Regions from separate parts of the Homo sapiens genome. Here all the other regions are linked to region 1. Evidence: fine-mapped expression QTL. A gene starts in region 1. Each other region holds a variant in brackets. All regions are shown on one strand. Distances are between the middles of the regions. Region 1 holds the start of SH3GL2 (SH3 domain containing GRB2 like 2, endophilin A1). Region 2 overlaps LOC107987051 (a long non-coding RNA gene). Region 3 overlaps SH3GL2 (SH3 domain containing GRB2 like 2, endophilin A1). Region 4 overlaps SH3GL2 (SH3 domain containing GRB2 like 2, endophilin A1).

Evidence for each region. PIP is the estimated chance that this variant, and not a neighbour inherited with it, causes the effect. A credible set is the group of variants that fine-mapping cannot tell apart.
Region 2: its variant is the best candidate, but not a certain one, in a credible set for the expression of SH3GL2 in lung (TOPMed, PIP 0.87).
Region 3: its variant is the best candidate, but not a certain one, in a credible set for the expression of SH3GL2 in prefrontal cortex (ROSMAP, PIP 0.64).
Region 4: its variant is the best candidate, but not a certain one, in a credible set for the expression of SH3GL2 in thyroid (GTEx, PIP 0.69).

The regions. Positions count from the first base shown.
Region 1 is chr9:17,576,552-17,581,702 of GRCh38, forward strand. SH3GL2 (SH3 domain containing GRB2 like 2, endophilin A1) reads left to right here and starts at 2,515. Exons shown (of 9, transcript NM_003026.5): 1 at 2,515-2,736. The coding sequence starts at 2,692. RefSeq lists a silencer at 1,327-1,525.
Region 2 is chr9:17,555,165-17,560,315 of GRCh38, forward strand. It overlaps LOC107987051 (a long non-coding RNA gene), which reads left to right. Exons shown (of 3, transcript XR_001746631.2): 3 at 25-539. Among named protein-coding and RNA genes, the nearest start is that of SH3GL2, 21 kb to the right of the region's middle. The variant G/T (reference allele first, on the strand shown) is at 2,003.
Region 3 is chr9:17,730,539-17,735,689 of GRCh38, forward strand. The region is part of intron 1 of SH3GL2 (SH3 domain containing GRB2 like 2, endophilin A1); the gene reads left to right. Among named protein-coding and RNA genes, the nearest start is that of SH3GL2, 150 kb to the left of the region's middle. The variant A/G (reference allele first, on the strand shown) is at 3,025.
Region 4 is chr9:17,622,348-17,627,498 of GRCh38, forward strand. All of the region lies in intron 1 of SH3GL2 (SH3 domain containing GRB2 like 2, endophilin A1), which reads left to right. Among named protein-coding and RNA genes, the nearest start is that of SH3GL2, 46 kb to the left of the region's middle. The variant C/G (reference allele first, on the strand shown) is at 2,355.

The DNA.
Region 1 (5,151 bases):
TCCCTACAAAGGACATGAACTCATCATTTTTTATGGCTGCATAGTATTCCATGGTGTATATGTGCCACATTTTCTTAATCCAGTCTATCATTGTTGGACATTTGGGTTGGTTCCAAGTCTTTGCTATTGTGAATAATGCCGCAATAAACATACGTGTGCATGTGTCTTTATAGCAGCATGATTTATAGTCCTTTGGGTATATACCCAGTAATGGGATGGCTGGGTCAAATGGTATTTCTAGTTCTAGATCCCTGAGGAATCGCCACACTGACTTCCACAATGGTTGAACTAGACACTCCTGTTTTTAAAACCATCAGATCTTGTAAGACTCATTCACTACCACGAGAACAGTGTAGGAAAGACCCACCCCCATAATTCAATCACTCCCACTGGGTTCCTCCCACGACACGTGGGAATTGTGAGAGTTACAATTCAAGATGAGATTTGGGTGGGGACACAGCCAAACCATATAAGATGAGGTGCAGAGGATGCCTGGGCGACTAAATCAATGGTTTCCAAAGGATTTAATGTAATGCCCTTAAGTAGTTTTTTTCTCCCAAGGTAGTTTCTTTGAAGTTAAGCAGCATGAGACTTCCAGGTTGGTGGATGAAGAACCAGGGAAAGATAGAAACTGCCTTTTTTATAATGTAGGGCTCAGTTAAGTATTCAAAGTTCCAAGGAGGCAATTCAGGCCCCCATTTCACACCTTTCACTGTTAGAGAGCAGAGCTCCTATCCATCCCAGGCCCTTCCACTTTGTAGATCAATTGCTCTATCTTTTGGCAGCTTCAACAAAGCCCTGTCTTATGAAAATGCTTTATTGTTCAGATCAGGGACCTGGTAGTAAAAATTAACTATAAAATACTTTTTTTTCTATTATGCAAGTAATGGGTAGCCTTTTTAAAAATTGGAAACATAGAGAAAAAAGTTTATTCCTAACAACCGGAGCCTCAGTGGATTAAAATTACTCAGGTTTCTCACTGATGCTACATGCCCATTGAACGTCAGGTGGGGACTCTGCACTGCTTTAGTCTCACTCTGGATACTGGCTGACAGACCACAGCTTTCTAGAATATTGCGGCCGAGGAAAAGAAAGCTTTGCGGCATCTCATACATCTCATATTGCTGCTGCAGAAGTGACAGTCACTTTTCCTCTTAAACCTCTAGTCAAAACTTGTAACCATGCCTCCACTTAACAAGAGGTTTGGAAAGTGCAATTCTGCCATGTAGGGAAAGGTATATGAACAGTGGTAAGGGCTACCACACTGGAGAATAGCTCCTTTCATCTGCCTCCCTTTGCAGCCTGCGTCCCTAGTCCATGCGCTCTACTGCTCCAGTGCCCACCACTGCTTGACTCTGCCTTTGTGTGTGTCAGTTCACATTATCAAGAAGGACCATGACTGGTAGCTCTACGGATGGAGGACCCTTTTGTAGCAGGTGTTCACCCTGTGCCCAAGCCGCAGTGCCTAGAAGAGTGGGGATGGGTCTGTGGCTCCTATCAGGCTGCAGGAGTTGCGGAGACAGAAAAAGTATTTCTAGGACTCCCATTTGGCCTTGCAGTCTCTACACATCCTTGGCAATTTCTCCCATCTTGGCTTCTCCTTCTTATCACTTTGGTCCACATACGGGGACAGCGTCTAAGTTCTTTCTGACCACCTCCTCAGTCCTAGAAAAACCAGACTTGGTTAAGTACCAGAGCACAGAAGGCATTTAGTGCTGCTCTGCTCCCAAGTCATCTATTAGTTTCACTTTAGCCAGCCATACCTCCTTGGTTACATATGAAGCATCTGTATATAACTTAGTATCATGCTTTTTCACATTATATTTTGATTTTTATCGGACCGGAAACCCTAAATCCACAAGCATAACAACAAGATCACATTTGGGCTTTTTCATTTCTGTAACCAGAGGATTGAACGCTAGTTTTGTAGTAAGACTTCAATTCTATTTATCCGTCCAGGCTTAAGGGTTCCTGTTCTTCTTTTTAAGTCATTAAATTGTATCAGACAAGGGGGAAAACGCGTGTGTGACTTTCCCTAAGGTAAGATGGGCTTAAGGGATATTGAAACCAGGGCAGAGAAATGTTTTCTGTGACCCACCAGTCAGGGCAAGGCATAGAAGGAGCAATGACTTATTCATTAGCCCAGATAGAAGGCCAGTCTTTTTCAGGCTGCGGCGCAGAGACGCCAGGCTCAAAGGGCAGGAGGGCCGTCTGCAGGCAGCGCCGCCGCGGCTACCTGGAAGCCCAGCAAGTCACCTGAGTCCTGCGGGTGCCTGGGCTGCCAATCTGCAGCGACCCGTCCGCAGCCCCCGGGGGCAGGAACACCAACCCCGGGACAGGAGGACGTCCTCGGCCCGCTGACTAGGGATCCGCCAGCGGGTGCCGCTGAGCCACATCCCCGCAGTTGGCGCCAGCATCCAGGTACCGCGCGCCACAGCACCTGCCTGGGCGTTCCCGCGCTTGGGGCGGGGCTTCCCGCGTCCCCTTTAAGAGGCCGCATCACCCGCCCTTGACGTCAGAGTGTTTCTCCGCAAGAGCCCGTGTCCCGCTAGGCTCCGCGCCCTCGCGCCCATAGCCCCGGCGGCGGCACGACCAGAGGCGGCCAGGGGAGCGCGCCGCCCCGCTCGGCCCTCCAGTCCCCCTCCGCCTCCTCCCTCCCGCACAGCAGCCGCCAGCGCGGCCTCCTGCACCATGTCGGTGGCCGGCCTCAAGAAGCAGTTCCATAAAGCCACTCAGGTAAGGCGCGCGGCAGGTGCGTCCCGGGGCAGTCCGGGGCGAAGCTGCGAGGGGCGCGCTCGGCGCTGGCCGTCCGGCGGCAGCTTGGGGAGTTCGGCACCGAGCCTCGCCCGCGCCGGCCGCGCCCCGCCTCGCAAGCCAAGGCGGCGGCTCGGGGCATCCCCGGTCTGGGCGTCCACCCTCGGTCCCCCGCCCCCGGCTTGGTGCGCGCTGCCTTCCCGCGGGTCCCCGGCGTCCTGCCTGGTAGCGCTGCTCGCCGCCCCCGCATCATCTCGCGCCCGTGCTGCAGGAAGGGGACCGCGGCTGCACTGCTGCCGCGGCGCGCAGGTGCCTTGGCGGCGCGGTGGGAGATTATGTAAAGTCGCCTCTTCACGGGTGACCTTGCGGAGTCGGTGCACCCGGCTTTCCCGGGATGTGTTGGCATGAGCGGTGGCCGCACTGGGGGTGGCGGGGCGGAGGCCGGCGGTTTGCGCTCCTCTCCCTTACCCTGTTGTCAGAACCCTCCTTCCCCGCCGCCCGCAGGCTCCAGGGGAATGGAAGGCTGGGGTCTTCCTTTAGGGACCCGCATACATTAACTTTTACCTGGAGAACTCGGTCGTGAAACTCCTTTGAGGCCAGGGCATGACAAACAGTCTGCGGGTCTTAAATATTTCCCTAAAACAACCAAATTGTTGAAGACTTAAAATCATCATGTATTTTAAATTGTTTTTAATAAATCTTTGGCATCTTGGATGTGCCCATTTTTCTTTATGGGGTTAATAAGCTGTGACTGTAATAAAACTGATTAATTTAGATTCTAATAATTAAAATCATTGGACTCAAAGAATTTTACATAGGGGCAAGTAAGCGAATACTTACGCTGTGACCTATTTCTTACATAATGTGTGTGATTACTACTTTTTTATCCTTCTGAAATAGGTTCAAATTTATGGGATCTTTAAGGATTTTGATGACTTACCGCGAAATGTTTTTCATGATTTGGTGTTAAATAGTTTTTCATAGGTTAGCCTTAATTAACGAGCTTTCTCATAATTTCTCGGAAGTAGTGAGGTTTTTCCTAGGCTACCACAGTGGCAGCCTTGTTATGAACCACATCCAGAAAAGGTGAGGGTTGTGTTTTACAGAACCTTGGTTAACTTAGGGTGACAGATGCAGCATGTAATTCCCGTCGTGTGTGTGTTTGCACGCATCTGCATCATCTTCATCACACATTCTTGCCTTTATAGAATCAATTATACCTGTCAACTTAGGAAATCAAGAAAAGTAAGACTATTTCTGTAAAAATGTTTCTTAATGTAATTATTTTTGCTTTTCTATTATAATTGGAGTTATCTGTGACCTCTCTGCCAGACATGTTTATGAAAGTAAGTGATTTGTTTGTTGATGTAGTTTGGAAGGCTTCTAATAACTTTATACTGCAAGTTCTTTCAGGTTTACAGAACCAAGCATATGTGCTGCCCAGGAATTCTGTGGCAGGACTTCTTCGATATTACTAACCTTTTTGATTGCTCTACTGGTCACTTCTCTATAGCATATCTCAGCACTGCGTTTACCAACACATCTTTTTTCCACTTGGATTCTAAAGATTTCTTTTGCAAAGCTTAGTGCCCTCAAAGGCAATTAAGAGTCTTGGCTTTGGAGTGGGAAAGGCTAAGGTTTGAATCCTGCCTCTGCTGCTTCTGACCTTGAGAGAGTATTTAACTTCTGAACCTGTCCATGCTGAAGTGATGATAATTTCCGTTGTCTCTTCAGGGTTGAGGTGAAGAGAAACGAGTGTGTAGAACACACGTATAAAGTGTTCAATAAATTATAGTTATTGACATAAAGGATATTTTTATTAGTATAAAATACTATCCCTTATGCTGTGAAGAAGTTACCCAAGCTAGACCTTTTAGTTTTTCCAACTTAAAAAATAGAGCGCTCCATTTCCGCTAAATCTTGAAGTTCTGTGTCGCCCTAAAGTGTAGAAAAAATAATTTAAACTGCGTTAGGAAAGAACTTAAAAGGTTGGAGAAGGTCGGCATGTGATGCGATACGGTTAATGTTTATCACACCGAATCCAAATGCAGAATCACTGCGTCATTGTCTTCCTTTTACTGAAAAGCCTTTTATTTGAAAGGTGAAGCAGCACGTAGTCTCTTATCCATAATTTAGTGTAGCACACTCTTAGAAAGTCTAAGGCACAGGTGACTGTTCTGTGCATATGTATATTTAGGAGAGTATGTAAAGCCCATGTTAATGTTTGCATGTGACAAAAAAATTAGAGAAATAGTCCTGTCCTACTTTTGTAGCCATTTTTTTCCATCAGGTCCGTGAACCTGATGTTATCTACAGAGAAGCTTTAGACCTAGAATTACTTCCTTTTGAGAACTGATGTGCTGGATAATATAGCCTGGGTTTGTTTGTTTGTTTATT
Region 2 (5,151 bases), 21 kb before region 1:
CTGTCTCTCCTTTCCATTCTGTAGGTTTCCTCTGGTCACTTTCCACACATCCTCATTTGGCCCCTGCTCATGAGCAAGTTGATTTAGGAGATGGTGCCTGGCAGTTCCTCCTCTGATTATCCAGGGAAGACAGAAAAAGAGGAAAACAGGAGACAAGAAGTAAAGCTTAGAACAGAGAGGTAACCATTAACCAGTAAGGGCTAATAGATGAGTCCAGAGAAAAGATAACAAAGGAGGCAAGGAGAGCATGGTAAGCCATGGTAGGGGTGAGGGAAAGATATTGAAGATTGAACTCCACCAGTGTGGGATAATGTTTGTATGTGGACTGTGTTGTGTCTCAGGTTCAGGTTGTTTAAGCAGCCTAGTGACCCAGATGGTCCCCTCCTTAGTGTCTGGTTTTGTCAGGTTGTAACTTGGCTTTTTCAGTTCCCTAATATCTCACATTATCTCCTCTTCCTCCTAGGCCTTAATCATGTCTTACTTTTTTACCTCCCAATTGGTTGATATTGAATTCTTATTAAATAAAAATGTACTCTTTACTCTTGAGTTAAAATTCTGATGGGGGAAGAATGTATACACAGAAATAATGTCACAACTATTTATGTTAATTAAAGGAAATACAGAGCAAGGTCAACTGAGATATTCCGGAGAAGGGAGTTTCCTTAGGGTATTGCCGCATGGACATACGTGCTCACTGTGGCACAGAAACACCTGCAGATTTTTCTTTCACGTAAGACTCAGAGGCAAAGTTACTGTAATCAAGAATATGTTGTTAAGAAGGCCTGGTATTAATACTGTCATTGGTAAGCATTTTGTAACTTATATAAAGCAGACCTTGGGTTTTCAGGACACTTCATCTGCTAATTGTCAACAAAATACAGCTGAGGTTGCAATGTGTCAGCAAGAATGTCAAGGAGGAAGTCAGAGGGTCAAATCAGCTGGGGCTTGGCCCATTTACCCTAGGTGGTGTTCTTAAAGACTCAGTGGTTCATTCTGCTTGGCAGCTTAAAGAGCCATTGAGGTTCAGAACTAAAAATGTGTGGGCCAGGAAGAGGGCAGTGAATGACTGGGACCAACTTGCCAGTGTCTCCCAGGGGCACCGGCTCAGATAACTGGAAGTCTGGAAGCTTTCTCATACGCAGCCAGTCCCGTAAGCAGCTCTTGGCAAGACTAAAAAAAAAAAAAAAAAAAAGAAAGAAAAAAAGAAAAGAGCTTCCCACTTGTGTTTCTTAACTGTAACTGTGCCTAAGAATCACGTGGTGCTTGTCAAAGTGCATATTCCTGAGCCCTACTCACAGGCACTTACACGCTCCTTTCGGGGTTGGGCCCAGAGATCAGCATTTTCACAGGCACACCAGGTATTCCAGAATAAGATGGTCTGTGGAGCACGTTTTCAGAAATGCTGCCTTAAAGCCTTCCACGTGTCCCAGCTGTCTAATCACTGTATGAGGGTCCATGATTTAATCTATTTTCAAAGACAGGGGTCTGGAAGTCGTTTTTCTCCTCCCACATTCAATCTGTCATCTCCTTCTGCCACTGTGTTCTAACATTTCCCTTAAGTTTGGGCCCTCTCCTCAAGCTCCTCACTGAAAAGCACTGTCTAAGCTGGATGCATTTCACACGAGAGCTTCTGTGGTTGGACTGCTTAAGTTAAACCAGCCTCCACGAGGGTGTCCAGCAGAGAGGTGCACCTGAGGGATTAGGGCAACAACCTAACTCGGGCCTCAGTTACTGCAGAATTCAATTTGCCAGAGGTGCCAACGTGAAGACCAAAGGTTGAGTCTTACACAGGTCTTCCTGTTTTGTTTCTTTAAACCTTGAACGTTTTGCCAATGTTTTTAAATGGGGGGAATTTCTCATAGACATCCAGATTTCTGGGTGTTCTTAGAATATCAGATCTGGCTAGTTTGGCCAGTTTCCCTAAGGGCAACAGTCAGCTGGGTTGAGGAGAGGCTGCCCTCTTGAGACGCTGTACCAGCCTCCCCAAGCAGAGGTACATATT[G/T]TCTGAAGATAAGAAAGCTAACATGCTAAAGCCTGATCTTTCAAGGCCCTTGACCCAATTTTGTATTTGCAATTCTGTGTTGTTTTCTTAAAGAGGCCTCCACAATTGTATACATTTCTGACTCCAGGAAACCTGGATCTTCTCCTGCAGCTCTGCTCTATGGACTCCCCACACTGAGGTCAAGGGTGGCTGCCATTTATCATAAGACTTGCCAGTGGATTTTCTTTAAGTAGAGAAACATTTCTCTGAACTCGTGGGTCTACAGAAACAAACAAAAGAAGGCCTCAGATTTCATGAATAAGGGGAGAGATCCTATCTCTTTGTGGATGTGATCTGGCCTGCATCCCTGGCCTTTGATTTCATGATCCCTGGCTGCATCGAGGTCTCCATCTACAATTCATGATTCCTTAAATTCTATGGAGTTGGAACAACCTTTTTGTGCATAGTCCTGCTTGCTTTCTTCTCCATTTCTTAAAAGACAGATTTGAATCCCATCCATTTAATCCTCATTTGGTAAAGTGAGGCTGGGAATCACCATGGTGAAGAAAAAGAAAAAGTAGAATCTGCCCATAGAAAGAGAATGAGTTGTACATCTTGCTCTTTTGGAATGGGATGTCCTGTGGGAAAGGACTGGATCATTTCTGTAATTTTTAATGCAACTGTTTGCAGGCATAAATGCTCACTGAGAGCTCAATAGATATTCACTGATGATAAGACATGTATAAAACAGATTACAGCGTATGTTCTTCAGTTACCTTCTAGGGTGTTTTTTTGTATTGGTCACTGCTTGAACAGATCCTTCTATTCCACCATATTAGAGCTCTGTGGAAATACAAATATTTTTGTTGTAACAACATGCTGTAATATTGGGAATTCAGTCATTGCCTTTTCCCTCCCAAGATACTTTTTGCTTTACTTTGATGTTTCTTGTGTTGTTCACAATGCTGTTTTAAAGCCTCATTTTTCACTCTCAAGATCGTTAAGGACTCGGCGATGTTTTCTGTGAATATATTTATTACTCAGGCGCCATGTCTCTGCTTCTCCCCTGGAAAGGAGGAAAAGTGGCATACATTATAGATCATCTGGCAGGGAGTCTTCCCGAATGATTTATTTGAAGCTTATTTTAACATTCTCCATTTGTACAGACTGTTAGTCTTCTCTTGTTTCTAGATAACGTCTTATTAAAAGGAAACACCTGTTTAAACATGTAAAAATAAGACTAAATCTAAACAAAAGGAGTTTTTGGTGAATATGGCATTTGCCATATATACTTTCTAATTTTTCCTGCGTGGAAGTGGGCTGGGGGATGTGATTTATTACTCTGGATCAGACCGATTAGCTACTTTTTCTACAAAATAATTGGGTGAAAGCCAGTGTCCACCAGGCCAGTGTGGTTTATGGGTCATGGCTATAGAACTAGGAAGATGTTGATTATTTTAAAGATATCATTAATAACATAAGCCTAATTTTTCAGTAGTTTTCCATCTAGTTATATTTTGCCTACTTAAATGTCAATCGAATTTTTTTTTTATATTTATTCTGGCCCTCTCTGTGACTGTAGCCCAGTTTCGAATCATTTCTAGTCCTAAGATCATATTAAGATGATTCCAGACTTATGCCTTCGATGTCTGAAAGAATCAACCAGAAATCCTGAAAATCATATTACAAGAAAGGAAAATGATAGGCCAATTACTCTTAGGAACTTAGTTGCAAAAATCCTAAGCAAAATATTAGTAAATCTAATCCATCAATACATAAAATGTAAATATACAATACAACCAAGTTGTAGTTTTCCCAGGAATGCAATGTTATTCAGATATTTGAAAATCACTCAACCACACAATAAAGGAGAAAAAAGTTTGACTATATCAATAGATGCAGCGAAAATATTTGATGAAATTCCACCATGTTAATAATAAACTCTTAGCAAACTAGTAGTAGATAGAAATTTCTTAAATAGAATAAAAGCTACCAAGAAAACAGGATAATAAACAGAGTACTTAATGAGAAAATATTGAAAACATCTTTCTGAGATTAAAAAAATAAAGGATGCTTGCTATTTCCACTGTTACAGTGCTGTAAGTCAAGAAAAAGAAAGAAAACATTGGAAAGGGAACAGTAACTGCCATTCATGCACCCCATTTGCATACTAAATGTTTGCATTCATAGAAATCCAAAATAATCTTTAGATCAACTATTACAATTAGCAAATGGATTTATCAAGGCCATTGCATAAAAGCTCAGTATATAAAATATGTTTTTATATACTAGCTCAAACAAAAATTTGAACGTACCTAAAAGCAGAGCTAACAAAAGATAAACCAGAATGCAGCATGGAGAGATAAAAGGGTGAAAAATACAAAGGGGAAGATAAAATACCTACAGAATAGAGTGAAAAAGATCTAAGCTATGAGTAATTTTAGTCCTAGAGAGAACGTGACAGAAACAGTTCTAATTGAACAGATCATGGCTAAGAAATTTCCAACACTGGTGAAAGAAATCAAGACACAGACTAAAAAGTCCTATAAACTATAAATAAGATAAATAAAAAGAGATCCATACCTATGCATCACAATTAAATGGCTGTAAACAAATAACAAAGAGAAAAATCTTAAAAGCAGCCAGGAGGCGGAGTGAAGGAGGAATGAAGACAAATTATGAAAATTAGAGTGAGCTGACTTTGTATGAAAAATAATGGCAGCCTGAAGATAATGAGAAAATATCTTTAAAGTACTTTAAAAAACTGCCAATCTAAAATTCTGTTTTCATCCTCAAAAAAAGCAATTGAAATGAAGACATTTTCAGATGAGCAAAAACAGTGGATTTATCACCAGCAAACCTATTCTTACGAAAACACCAAAGGATATTGTTTAGGCAGAATAAAAATGTTCACAGATGGAAGGTGGGAGACCTAGGAAAAATGAAGAGCAATAGAAGGGGAAATTTATGAATCAATCTGCATGAATATTGGCTGTATGAAACAATAATAAAAGCGTCTTATAGACATAAGTCAGAAGTTGGGTAAATGGAGTTAAATTATGCTAGAGTCCTTGCCTTGTCCAAGAGAACAATATCAATAAACATGACATTCTAATCAGTTAAAAATATGTTTTGCAATATCAAGGGTAATTATTAAAAGAATAGAAAAG
Region 3 (5,151 bases), 150 kb after region 1:
TTTTCAAAGTGAATGCTGCCAGCTTTTTGCCCATTCAATATGATATTGGCTGTGGGTTTGTCATAAATAGCTCTTATTATTTTGAGATAGGTTCAATCAATACCTGGTTTATTAAGTGTTTTAGCATGAAGGAGTGTTGAATTTTACAAAGGCCTTTTCTGCATCTATTGAAGATACTCTCCTAAATTTTAAATAACAGGTCAAACATGATCTAAGTTGCTCTAAATATGACGTGAATTGATGGTAATTCAACAAAGTGCAAAATTTTCAGGAAACTATAGTTCTTTGGGAAATTTCACTTAGACTTCAGAAAATTAAATCTCACTGAAGATTTCAATATGCTGTGTAAGGAGAGGAACCAAAACAAAAGGACAAAAACAGTTTTTTAAATAAGTGCACACTTAGGCTTACTTAGAGAACGGGATGTTTTTATTAGCAGATTTGGGACTTGAGGCATGCAAAACTTTCAGAGAGAGCCATATGTTCTTATGCATGCCAGCCTTGCGACAGTCACGATTCTGTGGTTCTGCAGATGAAAGCAAAACGTTGTATAGTCCTTGTGGCAGGAATGATACCTTTTCCTAAAGCAGCGTCCTTTGGTTATGCCAAGCTGTTATTTGGCTGAGTGGCTTTGCACTAAATATATCTAGAGCGATGTTTTAAAATTATAAATCTTATGTTTCTCCCTGCTATGGACTGAATGTTTGTGTTCCCCCAAATATACGTTGAAGCCCTAACCCCTAATGTGATGGTATTTGGAGATGGGGCCCTTGGGAGGTGTTTAAAGTTATATGAGTTCGTGAGGGTAGAACCCTGCTGATGGAATTTGTGCCCTTAAAAGAAGAGGAAGAGGAAAAGGGAGGGAGGTGGGGGGAGGTAGGGAAGAGAGAGAGAGAGAAAGAGAGAGAGAGAGACAGACAGAGAGAGAGAGAGAGCATCTTTCTCTCTCCACACAACCACAGAGGAAGGTTTATGTGAGGACACAGTGAGAAGGCAAAGGCAGCGTCATGCAAGCCAGGAATTGAGCGTTCACCAAAAACCAACCATGTTGGCACTCTTATCTTGGGCTTCTAGTTCTAGAACCACAAGAAGGTAAAATTCTATTGTTTAAGCTTACCCGGTCTCTGGTATTTTGTTATGACAGCCCAAGCTGACTGATAGACTCCCTCATCGCTGTTAGGATGGAAGCCTTAGTTTAGTCCAAAGGGGCTTGCAGGTTCTGGCTTTTGCCAGTGTCTTCAGCTTCATCTCAAGTGCTCTCTCCCTCCCTCTCTGATTTGCATCGGTGCTGGTCTCTTGGAGGAGCTATGCTTTCCCTATTTACCCCCTGGGCTTTTGGACATCCTCCTCACAGTATCCTCAGTGCCGGACATACAAAAGACATTCAGTGACTATTTTTAAATGAACAAGTGGTAGAAATTAGAAGGTAGTCAGGTTCTGACCTGTGATGGCAGAGGAGGAGATACTGTGATAGGGAAACAAGCATATAAAAAAGGCAACACATTTGACTGTTGTGTCTGATCATGACTGTTTTAAATGACATGAGTGTTGAGTAGGCCAACTCACTTTCACTCTTTTTTTGGACTTCATCATATTCTCAACAACAATCATAACAGCACATTAATATTACCCTTTAAAAAATAACCTGTTTAAGGTAGTACTGTTGGAGATGGTGACCGGAGTTGTTGCTAATTACTCTTTTTTTCTGTAACTGCCTTTTGCCCTCAAGGTTTGCCACTGGAAGAGGCATATCTGGTGGGAAAGAGGAAAAGACAAATGCATGGTGGTTCAGGGGAATGATATCAAAGAGAATTAATTAGAAATTGGAAGTTAAAGGAAGGATAAGCAGATCAAATTAGTATAGAGGTTGGTATACTGTTCCACTGCCTCCTTGTCTGTTAATGTATTCTGGAGCATATATCAGGCCTACATTAGGCACTGGGAAAGAGGGATGAACAAGATCAAAATCACTGCCTTGCAGGAACTCAGAAAGTTTGTAGAGGCATTCATATAAACAACGATAGTTTAAAATACTGTCTAACAAGTGCTGAATGGTTAGGCACAGGGGCCATGGGAGCACAGAGGGGTTTGGAAGTCTTCATGGGGAATGGTATAATTGGCCTAGTGATAATATGATTCAATAGGCCTATAGGCAAAGGAAGGAGATTATGGATTTATTATTGAAGGACAGTAAAACCTAATTGATTTTAATCAATTCTTGTTCATTTCCAAGAAAATGTTCACCAACAGCTTTTAGCAATATAAACAGTTATGAGAAGCAAATTTTAAAAAATTTAAAAGATTTTTGCACACTGAAGTTGCATATTGATTATAGCCAACCCAAATAGATCCTTTCCTGGGAACAGAAGTTTGAGTGGGTTTGGAATCAGGGGACCTGGGTTTCAGTCCTCTCTCTGTAACACCTGGCTGTCTGACCATAGCATACCTGGTCACTTCACTCCCCACGTCCTTGGCAGTTCTTACTGCTGCTGCCTTCCCCACTCTTCAGCACAAGTGTGTACCCGTGGGATGATATCTTCCCATCAAATCATAAGTTTAATTCTACAGTGATTCTTTTTTGATGGGTGGTCAGACCTCCTCTTTCCTACAACCCTCACCCCATGTCAGAAATATAATCCTTCATTTTGCCAAAGCAAAACGAAGTTAGACTGCATATGCTAATGAATGTGTTTATTTCCCTCTCACATTCTCTTTTTTTAAATTTTTTTTATTTTTTTCATTTTTTTATTATTATACTTTAAGTTTTAGGGTACATGTGCACAATGTGCAGGTTAGTTACATATGTATACATGTGACATGCTGGTGTGCTGCACCCACTAACTTGTCATCTAGCATTAGGTATATCTCCCAATGCTATCCCTACCCATCTCACACCAGTTAGAATGGCAATCATTAAAAAGTCAGGAAACAACAGGTGCTGGAGAGGATGTGGAGAAATAGGAACACTTTTACACTGTTGGTGGGACTGTAAACTAGTTCAACCATTGTGGAAGTCAGTGTGGC[A/G]ATTCCTCAGGGATCTAGAACTAGAAATACCATTTGACCCAGCCATCCCATTACTGGGTATATACCCAAAGGACTATAAATCATGCTGTTATAAAGACACATGCACACATGTGTTTATTGCGGCACTATTCACAATAGCAAAGACTTGGAACCAATCCAAATGTCCAACAATGATAGACTGGATTAAGAAAATGCGGCACATATACACCATGGAATACTATGCAGCTATAAAAAATGATGAGTTCATGTCCTTTGTAGGGACATGGATGAAATTGGAAATCATCATTCTCAGTAAACTATCGCAAGAACAAAAAAACCAAACACTGCATATTCTCACTGATAGGTGGGAATTGAACAATGAGAACACATGGCCTCTCACATTCTCTTACTTAACCTCTGCTTGCCAGCTTAGTGAACCAGTGTACTAAAGAACTCTGGTAACATGAGTTGATTTGATAAGAAAACTTAATATAGGTCCCTTCTAGAAAATGCACTCTCAGTCGAGAATTGCATTTTGAAATATAAATCTCAAGTTCATCACTCCAGTTCATCACTCCATAACAGGTGCCCGCAGGCACATTATTTTGCTTTTCAAGATCATCTGGAATGATGCCATTTAGACTAATTGCCCTCAACCCTTTAATTTACCTGGATTTTTGGAAAGTATCTTTGTTTCCTCATTCAGCCACATGTTTGTCTGAGGTAGAAGCATTTTGGAAGTTTACAGTCACCACATCCATGAGTTTTCATGTGATGTCACCTTGTTCTTAGGTAACAGGACAAATATTGATGCTCATAGATTGACACTAATCTCTTGCATTGGTAAAGTACTTTACAATTGACAAAGCACTTACTCAATTATACTGTACAGTCTTCACATAATTTCGTGTATAACTGTCCTGTGAGGTAGCTTTTAGTTATCCATATATTAGAAAAGTTAAGAGGTAAGACATTTTGCCCACAGTTTTCAACCTAGTAAGTAGCACACAATGTCCATTAACAGTTGAATGAATAAACAAAATATGGATTATCCATACAATGAAATATTATTCAGCCATAAAAGGAATGAAGCAGTGATACATGTCACAACATGAGGAACCTTGAAAACATAATGCTATGTGAAACAAGCCAGAGACAAAACACCACATAATTATATTATTTCATTTATATAAAATGTCCATAGTAGGTAAATCCATAGAGACAGAAGTATATGTGTGGTTACCAAGGTTGGAATGGAGTTGGGGGAAGGAGCCTGGGCAGTGAAGGCTGTAAAAAAATTCTTTTTGGTATGATGAAAGCAGTGTAATATTTGAGTATGGTGATGATTACATAACTCTGTAAATACACTAAAAATCACTGGATTGTGTACTTTAAACGGGTGAACTTTATGGGATATAAATGATATCTTTACAAAGTAATGCATTCTTCTTTCCCCTACATTCCAGAACTAAAGGACAAGTAACTTCAAAAGTGCTGCCTCCGGGCTCCCTTCCTGGTACCTATTCTGCTTCACTTTTGCCACATCATGAGAAGGGGTAACCAGTCTCTTAAGTCTTTTCTTTCTAAATATTCCTCTGTCTCTTCCTCTCAGGTCTCACTTGAACAACTAAAGGGGCAGCCTCCTAGAATCCTGGTATTCACTACCTACCACTCACTGGCAGATGTTGACATTAGCACATTACTAAGCCTAAGCAGAATTAAGAGAAAAGGAAGCCATTAGTGCCAGGTTGGAATCCTGCAATAGGACTTAGCACCTGTCCTCAGTTTAATGTATGAGTATAAGCACCCTGAATCTATAGAAAATCCAGAAATGTCCATTATTTATAAAATGCTCCCTATATATTTGTGTTTGTGCATGTGTGAGATTTGTATTTATGTAAGAGTATGACATATAGCTACAGTTGACCCTTGAACAATACTTACTTGAACTGTGGGGTCCACTTATACATGAATTTTTTTTTTCAACCAAACGTGGGTGGAATATAGAATATTCATGGGATGTGAGCCCTGCCTATGCAGAGGACCAACTTTTTGTATATGTGGGTTCTACAGGGCCAACTGAGGGACTTGAGCATATAAGATTTTGGTAGACACAGGGGTTCTAGGTTCTAGAACCAATCCCCTGCA
Region 4 (5,151 bases), 46 kb after region 1:
TTTTAGTCAGAAACCTGCCAGGGGCAGGGGAATAATTTCAGTAGCATTCTTCCAAGGGGGAGGATCTCTTAAGAGGCAGCATGATTAAAAATGCTTCCATAGTAAATAAGGACACTAGAATTGGGTGTCCAGGCCACTTGTGAGCAAAGAACCTCCTATTTCCAGATTCGGCGCCACCTGTGGGATACTCATGTTTCATCATAGGTGTCCACAACTTTATTCTTTTAATACCTCTACAAAGACCAAAAAAAAAGTGATACCAATTAAAAAATGTGGAAGAATATTAATTGGGATTGAACAGTACCTGTGGTTTTCTCATGTGACCCTGGGTTTGTCTTATTCTCTGAGAAAGTGGGCTGGTAGGTAGGTGCTCTTGATGTCCTTAATTTCAAAATGAGGAAGTCAGAGCAGGCACGGTAAGTAAAGAATAATGGATCCTGAGCCTCACCTTTTGGTCACTCCGTTGGCAGGGTATGTGCTTGGGGCATGAAAACCAAGACTCAAAGACTGCCAATCCTCTGCCGCAGTTTTTGAGAGTAAGAACTATGCTTGCTGTAATATGGCAGAATGAAATTATACCTGCTCCTTCCTTGCTTCTTCCTTCCCTTCCTCCCTCCCTTTTCCTTTCGTTTCCTTTCGTTTCCTTTCCTTTCCTTTCCTTTCCTTTCCTTTCCTTTCCTTTCCTTTCCTTTCCTTCCCCTTCCCCTTCCCCTTCCCCTTCCCCTTCCCCTTCCCCTTCCCCTTTCCTATCTTTGCATTCGTTCTGCTTTAGTTCACTGTTTGGAAGGGTGAAATAAAGCCCTGGTTCTGTTCTTTCCCCTTGTCCTTCCATCGGAGTGGGCCCTTTAGTGGTTAAGGGTGAGGGATGAGAAGTTAGTCTCTGGTGTCTAAGGTCCCTACGATACGTCTGAATGTTGCCAGGTGTAGAAGATGTGTCCTGTCCATAGGAGGAGCTTGTGGGAAGCTAGCTGGCGAGGTTCAGAAAGTAGAGTTGTGGGATATGTGGCCTTAGGTGTTGTATACGTATGTAGTTCAAATGGAATTAGATTCTATATAGGGTAGTGTGTAGACTGAGAACAAAATGACCTATCAATCTTAGGGAATGAATTAAGAAGAAGGTTGCCTGTGAAGGACAAGTCAGAGAGAAATCCAGAAGAGATTGATGTTCTGAAAGTTAAGACTGGACAATGTTTCATGAAAAATGTAATCGGAGAATGAAGGTTCAATATGTTTTTTGTTTGCATTTTCTTTTTGCTTGGAAATCATTTCAAATTTACAGAAAAAAATTACAAAGAATACCTGTCCATTTATTTATCTAATTCACCTTTTCTTATATTTAACCCTATTTATAATTTCCTACACACACACACACACACACACACACACACACCACCCACCATATATTTTTCTGAACCATTTTGAGGATATGTTACTATATCATGGTCCTTTACTTCTAATTACCTAAGTATTTATTTCCTAAGAATTGGGATATTCTCTTATACTATAACCGCAGCACTATTATCAACTTGAGTAAATTTAACATTGATACAATTTAAAAAATCAGATCTAATATTTATATTCCAATTAACAAGTTAACCCAATTACATTTTGAATAATATTTTTCTGTCTCATACAGGTTCTAGTCTGGGGTCAAATACTTCATTTTATTTCATTCGTTCGTTTCTTTTAATCTGAAACATTTGCACAGCCTTGGTTTATCTCGTTTTTAAGACTGCATCCTGCCCGTTAAAAATGCAGTGGCTGTCAGTTTGAGGTTGTTGCTGCCTCATGATTAGATTCAGGGTGATGCAATCTCAGTTGGAATATTGCATAGTGATGTGTCCTTGCCAGGATGTCCAACCTGCAGGCACCTTATGCCCATCGGTGGCGATGATTTTTAACATCCTTTCACAGTGTTGTCTAGTTTCCTGATTATATAATTATTGTTTTCTCTTTCTTCCCTTGCAATAAGTGGTCTGTGGGGAGCTACTGTAAGGTCATATAGATATCCTCCTTCTCCTCAAAGTCAGTGCAAGATTTAGCATCCATTGATGATTATTACTGGGTCCAGTCTTCACAGTGATAGGTGCGCAAACATGATTTTCCATCTCCATGCTCTTTCCATGTTTACCATTTAGCCTTTGACATTCTGCTCTAAGCAAGAGTCTCATATAATTTTATTTATTTATTTTTTGTGTGCACTCAAGAGTTCCCATTTTCCGTTGGTTCATAATTTACCACTGTACTCAATTTGAGCCCTCAATCAAATTTGAGTTGGCTAGTGGGGGCCCCTTCAAGATGGCTCCTGTGTCCATGTGGCATGTTCCCATCACTTACTTTTGACAAATTTTTCA[C/G]TTTCTGGCATAACAATGTGATCAGGCTCATCTTGTATATACTCTAGCCCTGGAGCCATCTGTTCCTTTGAGGATCCCAGATTCCTTTTAGTGGAGAAAGGGTATAGGCAGTATGGTCTGTGTTTTCCATTTGCTTCTGTGCTGTGTGAAGTGTTAGGCCCAGGCTTTGGGAACTATCCATTTCTTGGTAGATGTTGGGTCAAGTGGAAATGTTGGGGTACTGAGGAAGAACAATTTTGATTTGCAATTGGTAAATGAGGAATATCTGTTCAGAGTGTGAGTGAGATGAAAATTGTTCTTCTATTTAATTTGTTTGTAAACCTTGGCTAGAGTTGGCCTGACAGATTGTGTCCCTTTCCCTCTGGCCATACTTTTTTTGGGAGGGGGCTGGCCTGCATTTTAATGAACATGCACATTTTGGCACTCTCTCATGCTTGCATTTTTAGTTGTGTTCTCGTCTCACCATGCTCTGTAGGTGCCCCTTTAACATTGGTTCATCCTGTGTGAATGGGCAGGGGGAGGTGGTGAGTGGATGGTATTCTGGTTCCCTTGGTGGGAGCAGCCTGCAGAGGCCAGATAGTCCACATCTGTTGTTGATTGAATCCTGGTCCAGAAGCCCCACTTTATATTGCTGTGTGGAATGAGCAGAATTACTACTGTGGCAACACACAGTTCGTTTTTTACAGTCCACCTCCTTTCATTGCCTCCTAACTTGCAAGTCACCTGATAATTTCTGACACTTTCTTACCAGTATGGAGCTATTTAAAACGCATTCCTACTTTTCTCATCTCATGGGATCCTCTGGACAATACCTTGTGTGATAATCAGGCAGAGATCAATTCTATTTTACAGACAGGGAAACAAGGCAAAGAGAGTACATTTCCAATGGGGAAAGTTAGTCTCTTTTCCTTAGTAGCAAAGAGCTAGTAAGTGGCAGAACCAGAACTTCAACTTGGCACTTCTGCCTCTTTGTGCTTTCTTCTTGTCTTAGTTAAAAACTGAAGAAGAAAAGTAAGCCCTGTGGAAGCAGCTTAGGTACAGGAATTGGCAGGGTAGGAGGTGGGGTAGATTTCTTCCTTCTTAATCAGTTTCCTGTCTGAAGCTTCACATACTGGGGGTATCGTTTTTCAGTGTGAAAGGGAGGCTGAGGTCACTTTGTGTCTTCATGGGAAACCTGTCCCAGGAGGTATGTCTTAAACCCCATGCTTACCTCAAGGCAATTAGAGAAAACCATGTGACAGCATCGGTCTCACTGACTGTGGTTGATGAAGCAGAGCAGAAAAGCTGTTTTCTTCTCCTTGTCCTTTACTTCAGTCTTCCCCATCTCATCTTCCCTACCTGAGCTGATGGACTGTCTTGTGAGGCTGGGGAGGTGTCCACTTGGCTCTTTGGTTTTGGTTCCCAGAGGGAGGCTCTGGCCGCAGGACACAGCAGATGGAGCCTGTGGGAGCCCATGTTTGTGCCTCGGCAGGTGTGGGTCTGGGACGGGTCTGACCTCCACCTGGCACCTGCTTCTTTTATTGCCTCCATATGTCAAGGGGATATGAGCCCATGTGAGTGCTTTCAGATTGCTCTGGCCTGAGGCCATGGTTGGGAATGGCAGGAGCATGTTGCGGGGGACAGGGACCTTTGTGAGGGACAGTTGAGCCACTCTGAGGTTAGAGGACCACACAGCTGCCCCTTCTAGAAGCCTCGCTGGGCCAGAGGTGTGGCTTCATTAAGGTCCTAGTTGGACTGTGTCCTCATCTCTCTCTTATTTCCTGCTCTGTTTTTGATTTTATTTTCTTAAAATCTTCATGCTCATGGATTTTTAAAATGGCAGTAATGATTTTTATTTTTTTAAAGAGTAAAACAATGGCAGTCTAGTGCAGTTACTTTAAGACATATCAGGTAACCTTTACCAGTAAATCGAAGGCCATTGAATAAGGAATGTGTAAGGATCTGTGGACTCCCTGAAATTAGATGCAAAATGTTATATGTTTGTATGAATGCATTTTTTGGAGGAATGGCTCCCATAGCTTTCTGCAGATTCTTGTGGACATTTGACAGTCCCTCTCCAAAGTATGGCCTCCAATATGTCTTCTTCACATTCCTTTGGAGAACTGCCTTTACCTCCCGTGTCTCTCATAGATATCTGAGCACTTTAATTTGTGGAAGAGTCGAGGAAGAGGAGGCCTTGAAAATAGTCTCCTTTCTAACTACCAAATTTGGGGGCTGGCTCAGCTTCCCCTCCCCCATTACTGGTTCCCTGAGCAGGTCTGAGCCAGGATAATCTTCTTTAACCTCCACTTTCTGTCAGGCCCTGGTCGTGTGCTGGATGTACCTCTCCTCATGTAATTGTCACAACTACCCTGTATTGGAGGTGCCAAAGACTGAATAACATGTTTAACTTACTAAATAGAAGAATTGGGACTGCCGGTAAAAACTGCCAGATTCCAAAGCCAGAGTTTTTTCAATACACTCAAGGAATAAAACGTCAGCTGCTGTTTTTATTAGCACTCACCAATGAGACACCATCCTGTCCTGTTCCCTGTTTTCATCCTGCAGCGCCATATATTGCTCCAAAGCTTAGATAGTGCCCAGAGCCCACCTACAGCTCATCTTCCTATGAGGCAGAGAGCTAGCTTGATCGTTGGGGAATAATGGCAGAGCTCTCAGAAGGTGCTGGATCCCTAACCGCTTTGCTGGGTTCTTCATTCCTGGCCCACCCGAGAGCTCTTCTGGAAGTAAAGGCCTGAAACTGTGACCTTCTTGGCTATGGTGAAAAGTAACAGACGTCAAGTGTTAGCAAGCAGAC